Homo sapiens: one gene and its partner. The protein of the gene in region 2 interacts with the protein of the main gene of each other region in a pairwise test. Each region holds a gene or a part of one and is shown on either strand. Other genes may lie near its edges.

What was found.
Region 1: the proteins of SAE1 (region 2) and PAX8 interact in binary tests that used the Homo sapiens proteins (3 or more experiments, as listed by UniProt).

The regions. Positions count from the first base shown.
Region 1 is NC_000002.12:113,215,213-113,219,923, forward strand, and holds the end of PAX8 (paired box protein Pax-8), read right to left. Parts: intron 3,398-4,711; coding exon 3,321-3,397; 3' UTR 785-3,320; downstream 1-784. UniProt on the Homo sapiens protein: Transcription factor for the thyroid-specific expression of the genes exclusively expressed in the thyroid cell type, maintaining the functional differentiation of such cells.
Region 2 is NC_000019.10:47,203,550-47,210,835, forward strand, and holds the end of SAE1 (SUMO-activating enzyme subunit 1), read left to right. Parts: intron 1-121; coding exon 122-191; intron 192-5,609; coding exon 5,610-5,702; coding exon of another isoform or gene 5,703-5,776; 3' UTR 5,777-7,087; downstream 7,088-7,286. UniProt on the Homo sapiens protein: The heterodimer acts as an E1 ligase for SUMO1, SUMO2, SUMO3, and probably SUMO4. It mediates ATP-dependent activation of SUMO proteins followed by formation of a thioester bond between a SUMO protein and a conserved active site cysteine residue on UBA2/SAE2.

The DNA of each region.
Region 1 (4,711 bases), on a different chromosome or scaffold from region 2:
AATTCTGTTCATCTGGTGGGCCCCAGGCAGGGTTCCAGCTGCCCCCTTTCCCAGCAAGAAACCCACTGACCTGCCAGAGTTGGTTGGTCCACATGAATTTCCTGCAAGCTCCTAGCACCCTGGGCTGGCCTGGCCTGTGCTAGAACCTGAGGATGAAGAGGAGTGAGGGTAATGGACCAGGGAGAAGTTAAGAGTAAACTGCCTGGGAAGCTCAGGTGGTCTCTCTACATGAGCAGTGAAAGGGATTATTCCAGGGGGAAGGGATAGGCCCTCAGTGCTCTCAATGCCTCAGCAATGTTTTGGGCCCATCCTCATCCCCAATTCTCCTACAAACACACATACCACCCCCAGAGAACCCCTGGCTCCCCTGCACCATAAAGCGACCCCCCTTCACCTGCGACCACTCACAGAAGCCGCCCTCCCTACCCCAGGTGAAAGTGGCCCCTCGGCCAACCCTCAAAGCCCCCTGCGTGTCCTCCCTGTCCTTGCCATCCCACCTTTCTTCATTGCGTCCCCCCATGTGCCAGCCTGACTCCTCCCAACACCACCCCAAATGCCGGGGCACGTCGAATTGTCTTTCTTTCGCCCGATACATAAATGGCCTTATTTTCTGAGCCCGAAAAGGGGACCCATGGTTTGACCATGGGCAGAATATTGGATGGGTACTAGCCAAGGCCTGTTACATGGGGAACACATCCCACAGTCAACAAACACCCGCTCTGAGCAGAGGCTCCTGGCAAGCCCAGCTCACCTCCGGGAAAGAAAGGCGAGTTTTAAACCATGGTCACCTTAGTCAAAGCACAGCCCAAGCCCCTTTATTGGTTGTGAGTTGGAAAGGGTCTGCCGGGGGTACAGAGTGTCCCCAGAGGGGCTGTGGCTGTGAATGCAAGGGATCGCTCTATGGGCTCCTTGGGATGCTGTGCTCAAAGTGATTCTTGGGTAGGGAGCCCTCGGGATCCCAGAGGTTTGTGGTCAGGAAGACTCTCAGATGTCATGGATTCGGAGTCGCGCTGCAGAGGGAAGTTCTGCCATTGAAAAACCAGCCGCATCTCAGATCCCTTCAGAAGAGATGGATTTTCTTCCAGGAGGGTTCCCCCTGCCATGCCATCCATGGCAGCATCCCTAACCGCTCTTTGGGAGGCCTAAGGAGGTAAGAGCCCTCTCTCCCAGCCTCTGTCCTCCCAGCCCTGGAGTCCTTGGGCCCCTTCTATCTGACTCAATCCCAGTGTTGTTTGTCCAGCTGCCCATATTCACCTGGGCATCCCAGCTGCAGGCCCCTGCCCCCTTGTTCCAGCTGTGTCCCACATGGAGAAGGTCCATGTGGACACCAGACAGCCCCCTGGAGTGCAGAGCCCGAGCTGTCACATTGCATTTCCCAGATTTCCTGGAGGTGGTTGGCCTAAAGTGCTAAGTCTCTACAGCCTCCCTCACCTTGTCCTGGCCACACTACACTCTACCTCTCCATTCAGTCAGGTCAAATCTTTAGCAAATCAAAAGAAATTAAATCCCCAGTGGCAGCTCCAGAACCTCCACTGGGTCTAGAACCATTTGGCATCCCTGATGAGGACTCTGGGGTTTTGGGTAAAAGCGTTGGGCTTAGAGTAAGAGGACTTGGTTGAATCTACTACTTTTCATCTTGGACAAGACATCTCATTTTTTTCAAAGCCTCAGTTTCCTCATATGTAAAATGAAGCTGTATGTAAAACAGGGCTAATTTCAGCTTAACTTATATGAAGCCTTCCATACTGTGCCTGGCACACAAGAGAGCCCAGTCTTCTCTCTCCCTTCAGAGCTGTTTATGCAGGCTCCAGTCACAGCTATTCCCGGATCCCTCACTAACCCACCCTGCTGATTCTCTGGCTTCCTGTTAATAACAACAGCAACTCCTTGTGGGGAGTCTATGGTTGGCTCAGTACTGTGCTATCCTTGCATTTGCTCAGTGTTGAAGAACTTGGGATGAGTGAGGTACCCAGCGTTCAACGTGAATTAAAGGCAGAGGGAGAAGGCCAAGCCAGAGCTCTGGGGCATCAGATGGTCCCTTCCAGCCCACGGCCCCAAAGTGAGTTTGTCGGCTACTCAGCTCTGATGTTCTTGGGAGAAAGCCCAGCCCCGGGATGCCTCCTTCCCCAGCCAACCCCAAAGCCTGAGATGAAGAGCAATGGTTTATTGAGTCATGTGGTAATGGCAGGTTGTCTTTAAAAAAAGAAAGAAGCATCAAGGAGAGAAGCCCCACAGGGCAAAGAGAGACATTTCACTCAGAGGCCAAAGTCTGGGGGTTAGAAAGAAGGAAGCTTGACCCAAACAAAGTTTCATTTACAGTATATACAGTCAGGCCTTGGGGGCAGGAGCTGCTGGGGAGCAGAGAGGGACCCTCTATCGCTGGCTTCAGGGGGTGCCTTGGGTCCCTTCAGTAGCTGGTGGGCGTGAGCTGCAGGAAGCACATTTGGCTTGGCAGGAGCTGTCAGGAAGGGGAAGCGGGTTTCCTGCGATTCTGCCTTGTTCTGCCCTGGGTGAAGCCGCACACCACACCTCACCTCCCAGGGGCCCAGGCCCTGTGGAATGTCTGTTTTAAGCTCCCTGGGGCTGGCCTGGCTGACGGCAGCTGCCAAGGGGATGCCGCACTGCAGGAGGACCTGGGGTGGTGCTATACCTTCACAGCAGCAGGCAAAAGAGGTCAGCTGACAGCCTGGTGGAATTTCTGAGGGACTCGCTCCAGCCCTCAGCCCATGCCCAAGAGGGAGGTGTAGAAAGAGCCAAGCAAATGGAGTGGAGAAAGAGGACAGCCAGAGCCTCCGTGTGGGGCAGGCGGGAGGCTGAGGGAGGTGACTCCCTGGGTGGCTGGTGAGGAGAGCCTCGGCACCAGGCTGTGACTTGTGGGCTGGAGGGAAGTGCTTATGGTCCATAATTGCTAGAGTTGTGTTAATAATGGAGCCATGGAGGTGCCCTGTGCACCCCTTGGGCCCGGGCAGGAACCATTCGCCATCCCCCCAAGTTCCTCGGCTATTGCTTCTTCTCTCCTTTGGTGGGTACCGGCTGGGGGCTACATTTCTTCTTCAATTTTGTCTTTTTCAGCATGGCATGGTTCTCTTTCCCTGGGACTCCTGCCCCTCATTAAGGAGTCTTGGAGGACAGTTTGGCCTTGTCCAAGGTCATCCTGTCTTTCATGGTTCATTAAATTAACCACACAGGGAGTGTGCCGCAATGCTGGACTTGTGGTTATTTTTCATGTAATAAATAAAGATTCCTTTGTGTGACTCTCTGGGGCCTGTCCCAGGCTGAGTCCTCCTGTTGCTCAGTCGCTCCCACTGTCCCCATGGCAACTACAGATGGTCAAAGGCCGTGGCAGTGGTGGGCGGTGCACTCGGCCTTGATGTGGAACTGTAATAATATGGGGAACCTGGACACATTAAAAAAAAATAACAACAACACTGCTGGTCAGAAAGGAAAATTGCACCATAGCCTTCCCTGCATCTGCTGACCTTTAAGACAACACAAGTTAATCATTCATTTCTCTGGCCTATCTGATCATCGAAGATTAACTCCTCTCCAGCCCTATTTCCTCCTTCTCTGGCCTCACCTTTGAGTTTCTGGCCAGAATGAGAACAGTGGCTTCTTGCCCCTTCCCCCTATGGCTGCTTTGACCTTCAACACCCTCGTTGCAATAGGGAGAGGGCAATAGAAAACAATTGCATGTGGAACCCCAAAGAATCAAGTGCACTGAGAGGTCATTGGGATCCTCCCTAGCCTTGCCCAAACAGTGCCAGGACAGAGAGTCTTCTTTCTTAAGACCCAGGGAGATTAGACTGCTGAGGGGTCAAAGGGGATCTGGGCTTGACGGCCCTTAAGGTGAGGCTCTGCACACCTGCAGGATGGGCAGCCTGGGGAGGCTCAGTGGGAAGGTGCCTGAACCCTGGCATGTCTCATTGCCCTCGTCTTTTCTGGCTAAATTGAATGGAAAGCTGGGTTGGAGTTGAACTCATCTGGCAAACAGGGCCCAGGTCTGCCACCTTTCAAGTTATTTCTGGAATACAAAGAGGTAATGGGAGGAGAGGGGGTCTTGGGGAATGGATGGTTCCTAGCCTGCAATGGTGCCTGTGGGGTTGGCCATCCTTGGATCACTGCTTCTGTCTGGCTCCGGTTTGCTCTGATACACCCAAGGCCACCACTCAGGGAGGCTCTAGTGGGATCCCTCAAGTCCCCCCATTGGTGGGGTTTTGCTTTGCTGAAAAGCTTCTCTTCCCAGTTCAGGACCCCAGGACAAGAGAGGGGTGAAGAGAAGCCTGGAAGCTCGCTGAAGCTCACTCTCTGGACCTCGACCCTGAATACTGTCTTCATCTCAGGCTAAATATGGGGAATGTGGTGGAACAAAAGATTTCTGTTTAAGGGTTTGGTGCTGAATCATGAGTATTTCTGAGCCACTTAGATGGTTAATGGGGGCAACAGGATGGCATTCTTGAAACTGGCTCCCAGGAAGGAGGGCAGTTACATTCTGGCGGGTGCCCTGCGTCAGTGTCTGCACTGTGGGACTGTAAGCCGTGGAGGCAGGAGGTCCTCTCTTAGGCTTTTCTCAAGTCCTCCCTTGTCCTCCCCTTCAAGGCCTGAGCCCTGAATCTTACACAAAACAAAGATTTAAAAGACATGGGCTTGAGAAGCAGGAGGGAAACGAATGCCTGGAAGCCTCTGGACTTCTGCCCTCTTTCCCCAAACAACC
Region 2 (7,286 bases):
AATCGGGCCCTCCTGCTAGAAGTTGTTTTTATTCAGGAGAGCCTACTACTGAATTTCTCCAGATGTCATGGTCACAGTTCTGTTCCCAGTGCTCCATTTTCCTTGTCTTCCTCTCTTTTAGGTACTGCTTCTCCGAGATGGCCCCAGTGTGTGCGGTGGTTGGAGGGATTTTGGCACAGGAAATTGTGAAGGTAAAACATCACTGTGGAGCAGAAAATTGTTAACCATGACTTTGTATATGTGCTGACAGAGAGAATGGAAACTGTCTTAGACAGCTGCCTGCTTTCTCTCACCCCATTCATCTTTGTTTCATGCCCTCCCCATTTCCACCTCATCCCATTTTCTCTGGCCCATCCAGGTGCCATTCAGCAAATGACCTTGGAGTGCCTGCTCTGTGCTTAGCTCACAGTTGGCCATAGTGCCTCGAAGGTGTGATCTGCTCTCCCCTAACTGTATTAGTTATCCAGTGCCTGTTGTATTGGTCAGGGATTCTGCTTCTCATAGCTCTATAAGTGAGTACTATCATGATCCCCACTTAAGAGGAAGACACTTGGGCCCATGAAAGGGACTCCAGAACCTGTGCTCTTAACCTCTGTACAGTTTATCTCTATTCATCACCATGACATCAAAGCCCTCCCTTTTTTTTTTTTTTTTTTTTTTTTTTTTGAGATGGAGTCTCGCTCTGTCCCCCAGGCTGGAGTGCAGTAGCACGATCTCAGATCACTGCAAGCTCCACCTCCCGGGTTCACGCCATTCTCCTACCTTAGCCTTCCAAGTAGCTGGGACTACAGGCGCCTGCCACCACGCCCAGCTAATTTTTTTGTATTTTTAGTAGAGACAGGGTTTCACTGTGTTAGCCAGGATGGTCTGGATCTCCTGACATCGTGATCTGCCCACCTCAGCCTCTCAAAGTGCTGGGATTACAGGCATGAGCCACTGTACCCAGCCGCACCCCCCCCCTTTTTTTTTTTTTTTGAGACAGAATCTCACTTTGTCTCTCAGACTGGAGTGCAGTGGCATGATCTTGACTCACTGCAACCTCCGCCTCCTGGGTTCAAGCGATTCTCCTGCCTCAGCCTCCCGAGCAGCTGAGAGTACAGGTTCCCACCACCACACCAGGCTAATTTTTGTATTTTTAGTAGTTCACCATATTGGCCAGGCTGGTCTCGAACTCCTGACCTTGTGATCCTCCCACCTCAGCCTCCCAAAGTGCTGGGATTATAGGTGTGAGCCACCGCACCCGGCCAAGCCCCCGTCTTTTTAACCACACACTGTAGGTATTTGTAGAGAAATCAGTTTCTGTGTCCCCATGAACACACCAGGAGCCCCTCAAGGCTCTGTACAGGATGACCCGTGACCCTGTTAGGTAGGTGTTAGTGTGTCTCTCAGAAGGGAAGCATCTTATACAGGGTCACATAACCAGTAACTAGCACAGCCTTTTGAGGGTCTTCTGGAACATTTGGGTTGCTAAAACTATACCATACCCCCAAATATATTGTACATTCTTTGCAGACTTTGCTATTTGCCCGAAGATGTTAAATTTGCCTTTTGCAGGTTCTTGGCTGCCTTCGTGGACTCCGGTGAGGCTTTTTCCTTCTTTCTTATGGAGCAGAGTCGTGCCTGGTTAAATGATTGGCCATGTCCATGTACATGTCAAGTTTGAGCTTGGGAGGACAGTTTGGAGGCCAGCCCTTAACACTTTGTCTTGGGGTCTGTACATTCTGGAGGCGTTTGGCTCAATTTGTTAGTCACACCGTTTTCCTAAGGCTACTTTTTTTTTTTTTTTTTGTCTATTTTTTCTGATCCTTCTCTCTGGTCTAAATTCTTCCTTTGATCAAATCTAACTTTCTTCTATGTAATGGGCACCGAGGAGATATTTGGAGGGGGAAGAAAAGTGTGCAATGGCCATACCTCTTTCCTTGCTCACATTTTATACATAGCCCAGAGTGATGTGAAAATTACAGTTTATATGCCCAATCTGAGAAGAGGGTAATGGCCACCCAGAGGACTGTTCGAGCAGGATTCTGAGGCTCCCTGTAGACAAACTGCAGGAAAGAGTGCAGCAATGGGAATGTTCTAAGTGGGGAATGGGAATGTACATATTTTTGTAGCCTAAAATGACGACACCACCAATAATAGACAAGACTTACTGAAAGCCCACTGTCTGCCACACAAAGACAGTGTTTTTTACGTGGATACTCATTTCATCTCCCACCGGCCCTATGAGGTAGGAACTCCTGTGATCCCTGGTTTATAAAAGAGAGACTAAGGTGCAGGAAAGAAGATGCTTGCCCAGGCTAGTGAGTGTGGTGCCAGGATGTGGGCCCAGGCAGTCTGGTTTCTGAGCCTGTCCTCTTCACCACGGGGCAGTCATGCATCAGGTGTTGCCTTCAATGGCACCATCATGTAGAGACTGCATGGACCCCAGGGCCGCTGCCCTTGCATTGTCAGCCTTACTTCTGCACATCCCATTGAGGGGCTCCCCCTAAATTTTTCATGTGGGATGGAGACTGGAGGTTGGGGCAGGTAGCCTTGACCCCATTGTTGGTGGTAGTTTCTCACATCCCCATCCTCACACAGCCCCCTCCTTCCTGCCTGCTGGAGACAGCTGGTGCCCAGCATCTTGTTTCTGTTTATCCCAGATAGCCAGAGTACTCTGCATTCTTCGTTGCTGGGTGTGTTTGGAATCTCCTCCTACCCCATCTTGCTTGGGAAGCACTTTACCTTTTGCCCCATGTCACCCCATGCCCTGCTCTCATCCCCAGTACTCCTTCATACTTATTACTGGTCAGCCTTCAGCCAGCTGGCAGGCGGGGCCTGCAGTCCAAGGGCCTCAGACTCACCTTTCTCTCCTGAGGCACTGTCTGAGCGCCTATGGAAAGCTTACACTAGGAGATGGGTCAAGCGCAAGTCTGCTCCTTTGGAATCATCTTTTGCGTCTTTCCTTTCTTACGTCCTTCTAGATACCCTATTTTATATCCATGTCTACTTCCTTGGGTTTAAAGCAGTTTTCCTTTCTCTCCATCCCCACCGTCCACGGCAGGTCTCCCTGTCTATGGTAAGAGAGGTGATAGTGAAAGCAGCAGCCATCCCAGGTTCATGGTAAAACACATACCATCTCCTGTATCTTGGGTTTGAGGGTCTAAGAGTTCCACCTGTGTACTGTTGGACCCTTCCACCTGGCTAGGTTGGTGGCATCCCCAGTATTGGTAAAGGACTCCTGGCCCTATTATTATTAATAGCAGCTCCTACTTACTAAGAATTTACTACGTGCTCGGCACTTTACAAGCCTAGTCACATTTCATTCTCACCAAAACTCTAGCAGGCAGGTGCTTTTTATTTGCCTATTTGCCCAGAGAAGCAAACTTCTTTCTGATCCAAGCTCCATGTGGACAGAGACCTCAGAATCCTTAATGTCTAGCTGAATACCTGGCATAGAGTAGATGCTTAATAAATGTTCCCTTGACTGGGTGCAGTAGCTCATGCCTGTAATTCCAGCACTTTGGGAGGATTGCTTGAACCTAGAAGTTCAAGACTAGCTTGGGCAACATGAGGAGACCTCATCTCTACAAAAGTCCCAGCTACTCAAGAGGGTATGGGAGGATATCTGGAGCTGGGGAGACGGAGGTTGCAGTAAGCCGAGAATGTGCCTCCCACCTGGGTAGCAGAACAAGATCCTATCTCAAAAAATTAAAAACATTTACAAATAAATAAAATTTCCCTGGAAAAATGGCTGACTAACACTATTTGTATATGGTAGATGTGATTGTCCCTGTTTTATGGATGAGGAAAAGGGTTTGGTGCTGAGTTTGAAGAGGAGCAGTTCAGGATGTGTAGCCCCACCTTCCTCATGAATGATGGGACGGTGCTCCTGGGAACCGTTAAACCCTGCCCTGGCAGCTTGCCTAGGTGATGTCTTCCTCTTTAAATGGTAGCTTGTGGTGAAATTTCAATCCTTTCTGGGTTAAGGACCTGTTTGAAAATTTGTGACAATTGTGAACCCTTTCTCAGAAAGATGTATGTGCATACAAGACTCAGTATGTTGTTTCGGGGGCTGACCCTGCCTCAAAAGACAGGGCCACGTGCTCACTCTCCTTCCCACCCCTCTCTCTCGCTCTCTGTTGCCCAGGCTGGAGTACAGTGGTGCCATCACAGCTCACTGCAGACTTGATTTCCCTGGACTTAAGTGATCCTCCCACCTCAGCTTCCTGAGGCACTGAGACTATAAGCACACGCCACCACATCCAACTAATTTTTTTTATTTTTTGTAGATATGGGGTTTTGCCATGTTGCCCAGGCTGGTCTCGAACTCCTGGGCTCAAGTGATTCTCCCGCCTCGGCCTCCCTAAGTGCTGGGATTACAGATGTGAGACATTAAGCCCAGCCCTGTTCTTGTATTTTAAAGTGCTCTGTCTGGTAACCCCACAAGATAATCACCATTGCCATTGCTAAATAGCATTGTCCAGGCCCTCTGGATCCCAGCCCTGACCCCCTGTGGAAGCCTAGCGACTCTATGTCCTCATGGAATAGCCCCCGCTTCTGCATCAGTGTGTTCCTTGATTAAATGTGTCCCCTTAGGTGATAAAGGCCACAGCCTAAGAACTGCCACCTTTCTCAGTTGAATAGTCATGAATAATTATTTCTGCTGTTTGCCCAATGGTGGTGCAACACAGTGTTAGTCATTGTTTTAGTTTTAAGGTGTTTTTTTGTTTGTTTGTTTTTTGTTTTGAGACAGGGTCTCACTCTGTTCCCCAGGCTGGAGTATAGTGGCACTATTACAGCTCACTGCAGCCTCAATGTCCCAGGCTCAAGCGATCCTCCCACCTCAGCCTCCCGAGTAGCTGGCACCTTGGGCATGCATCACCATACCTGGCTAATTTATGTCATTTTTCTTTTTCTCTTTTTTTTTGAGACAGAGTCTCACTGTGTCGCCCAGGCTGGAGTGCGGTGGCGCAATCTCAGTTTACTGCAACCTCTGCCTCCTGGGTTCAAGCAATTCTCCTGCCTCAGCCTCCCGAGTAGCATGCCACCATACTCGGCTAATTTCTGTATTTTTAGTAGAGACAGGTTTCACCGTGTTGGCCAGGCTGGTCTCCAACTCCCAACCTCAGGTGATCCGCCCACTTCAGCCTCCCAGAGTGCTGGGATTACAGGCGTGAGCCACTGCGCCCCACCTATTTTAGTTTTCATATAGACGGGATCTCACCATGTTGCACAGACTGGTCTTGAATTCCTGGGCTCAAGTGATTCTCCCACCTCAGCCTCCCAAAGTGCTGGGATTACAGGTGTGAATGTGCCTGGCCCTGGCCTGTTTTACATTTTTGAGATACATAGTTTAACCCAGGCAAATACATTTCTTAATCTCATGTTAGGAAAATAAGGTAATGTTTGGAGAGGTTAAATAATCTCCCCATGGACACACAGCTTGTAAGGGACAGAGCAAGGAGATAGGACAATCAAAATTGTCTCCAGACATTGCCAAATAGCCCTTTGGGAGCAAAATCGACCCCAGTTAAGAACCACTGCCCTAGACTGCTTTTAGAATTTTTTTTTCCCTCTATTCCTCTTAAAGCACTTGAGCTAAACCCTCTTTTCATTTTTCTCCCCAGGCCCTGTCTCAGCGGGACCCTCCTCACAACAACTTCTTCTTCTTCGATGGCATGAAGGGGAATGGGATTGTGGAGTGCCTTGGCCCCAAGTGAACTCAAGATTTGGCAGCCCCAGAGATGCCAACTGCAGCATGCCCACCTGTATTCCCTGTCCCCTTCCTTCATGAAGGCATCTCCAGGCAAGGAAAACTGAAGTCATTGGCCCGATACAAAACATTTCCTGCAACGAAGGAGGTGGTGCCGACGTGCTGCTTCCCATCACCAGCAGCTGCTCGACAAGGGGCGCAGGGTGGCTGTCTTTGTTCCAGCACTGTTCAGGCTGCCTGTCATCCCGGGCCTGCCAGCTCCCCTGAGTGATGAGCACTTCCAAGCACCCCTCTGCCCTTTCTCTGTCCTTATGCTGTCCCGGCCTCGCCAGCCCTCTGGGGCATTGTGGGAGATGCCTGCCAGGAATGAGCAAGCTCTGTTGCTCGGGAGCCTCTTGTCACCTTCTTGGACTTATTCCCCACCTGATACCTTATAGAGAAAAGTGTGAATTCAGGTGGAGAGTAGGCCCAGGCCCCATGAGGCACCAGTGGAAGCACAGCTCCAAGTTCAGACAGGTGCCCTTAGAGAGGAAAACCATGACAGGCAAATGCATTTCCTCTGGAGTTTGAGACCCTGACAAACAACAGGTGGCATCTGGTGTGCTGTTCTTGAGTTTTCGTTTAGGATTAGTTGAGTTCCAGCTGGGTTTTGGGAGAAAGGAGATGCTACCAAGTCTTGGATGTTAGGGCGAGACCCTGCAAGTTGAGTATTAGAGAGCTTGTCTTTCAAGGCAGGTTCCTGGGGCTTCAGGGCTAGGAGGGAGGAGCCTGCCCTTTTAACAGAACCCCAGTCACATGCGGCTCAAGTCACTCAGAGGCTGTTGCATTTCAGGGCTATGTTGGTCCTTTGTTTACCTCCTAAACCACAGCTGTTTGTGTTTCACATATGTTGTGAATTTTCCTTGGTTCTTTTTAAAGGAATGATAATAAAGTTACTTGCTTTAGGATTTGCTTGTTTTTCTTCCACTTCAGAAGCTTCTGAGAGGGAATGGGATGATCCTACCAGTTGCCTTTTCAGACCTGAGGCTCTAACTCAAGAGATTCCTCCTCTCCCTCACCATTCCTGCCACCATTTTTTCTGGGTGATGCAGCAAGAGTTAAATTGTTCACATTCTAGAATGTGTAGAAGCTTCTGGCTCCAGTTGTCTAATGGATAATTCAGCTAAATAGTGGCTATTTTCAGTGGCAAGAATTATAATAATAAAGGGAAGTCAAAAGTGATGCTTCATATGCCCCAAGTGCCACAGCCGCTACGGGTCAGAGCTTTTATTGGAAGACCAGGTTTGCCTTGATGCAGCCAAAGTGCGTTCCAGTTCACCCCACTCTTGCTTGTGTTTCTTCTTTATGTAAATTGTGTGATGTTTCAATAAATCAGTCTCTTTCCTATTCTGATCCTGCAGCAGTTAGTCGGGGAGAAAAGTGGTCTTCACTACAGAAGGGCCTCTGTTCCTCAACCCTGCATCACCTGCTCCCGCCGGAGGTGAGACAGGGGCTGCATTTCGGAAAGGATCCGTGTCTCGCCACCTTTAGTGCAAGTCAGTGGCGTCAGGGTCAGCAGTTACATTGCTGCATGAATTTCACGTGGTCTTTA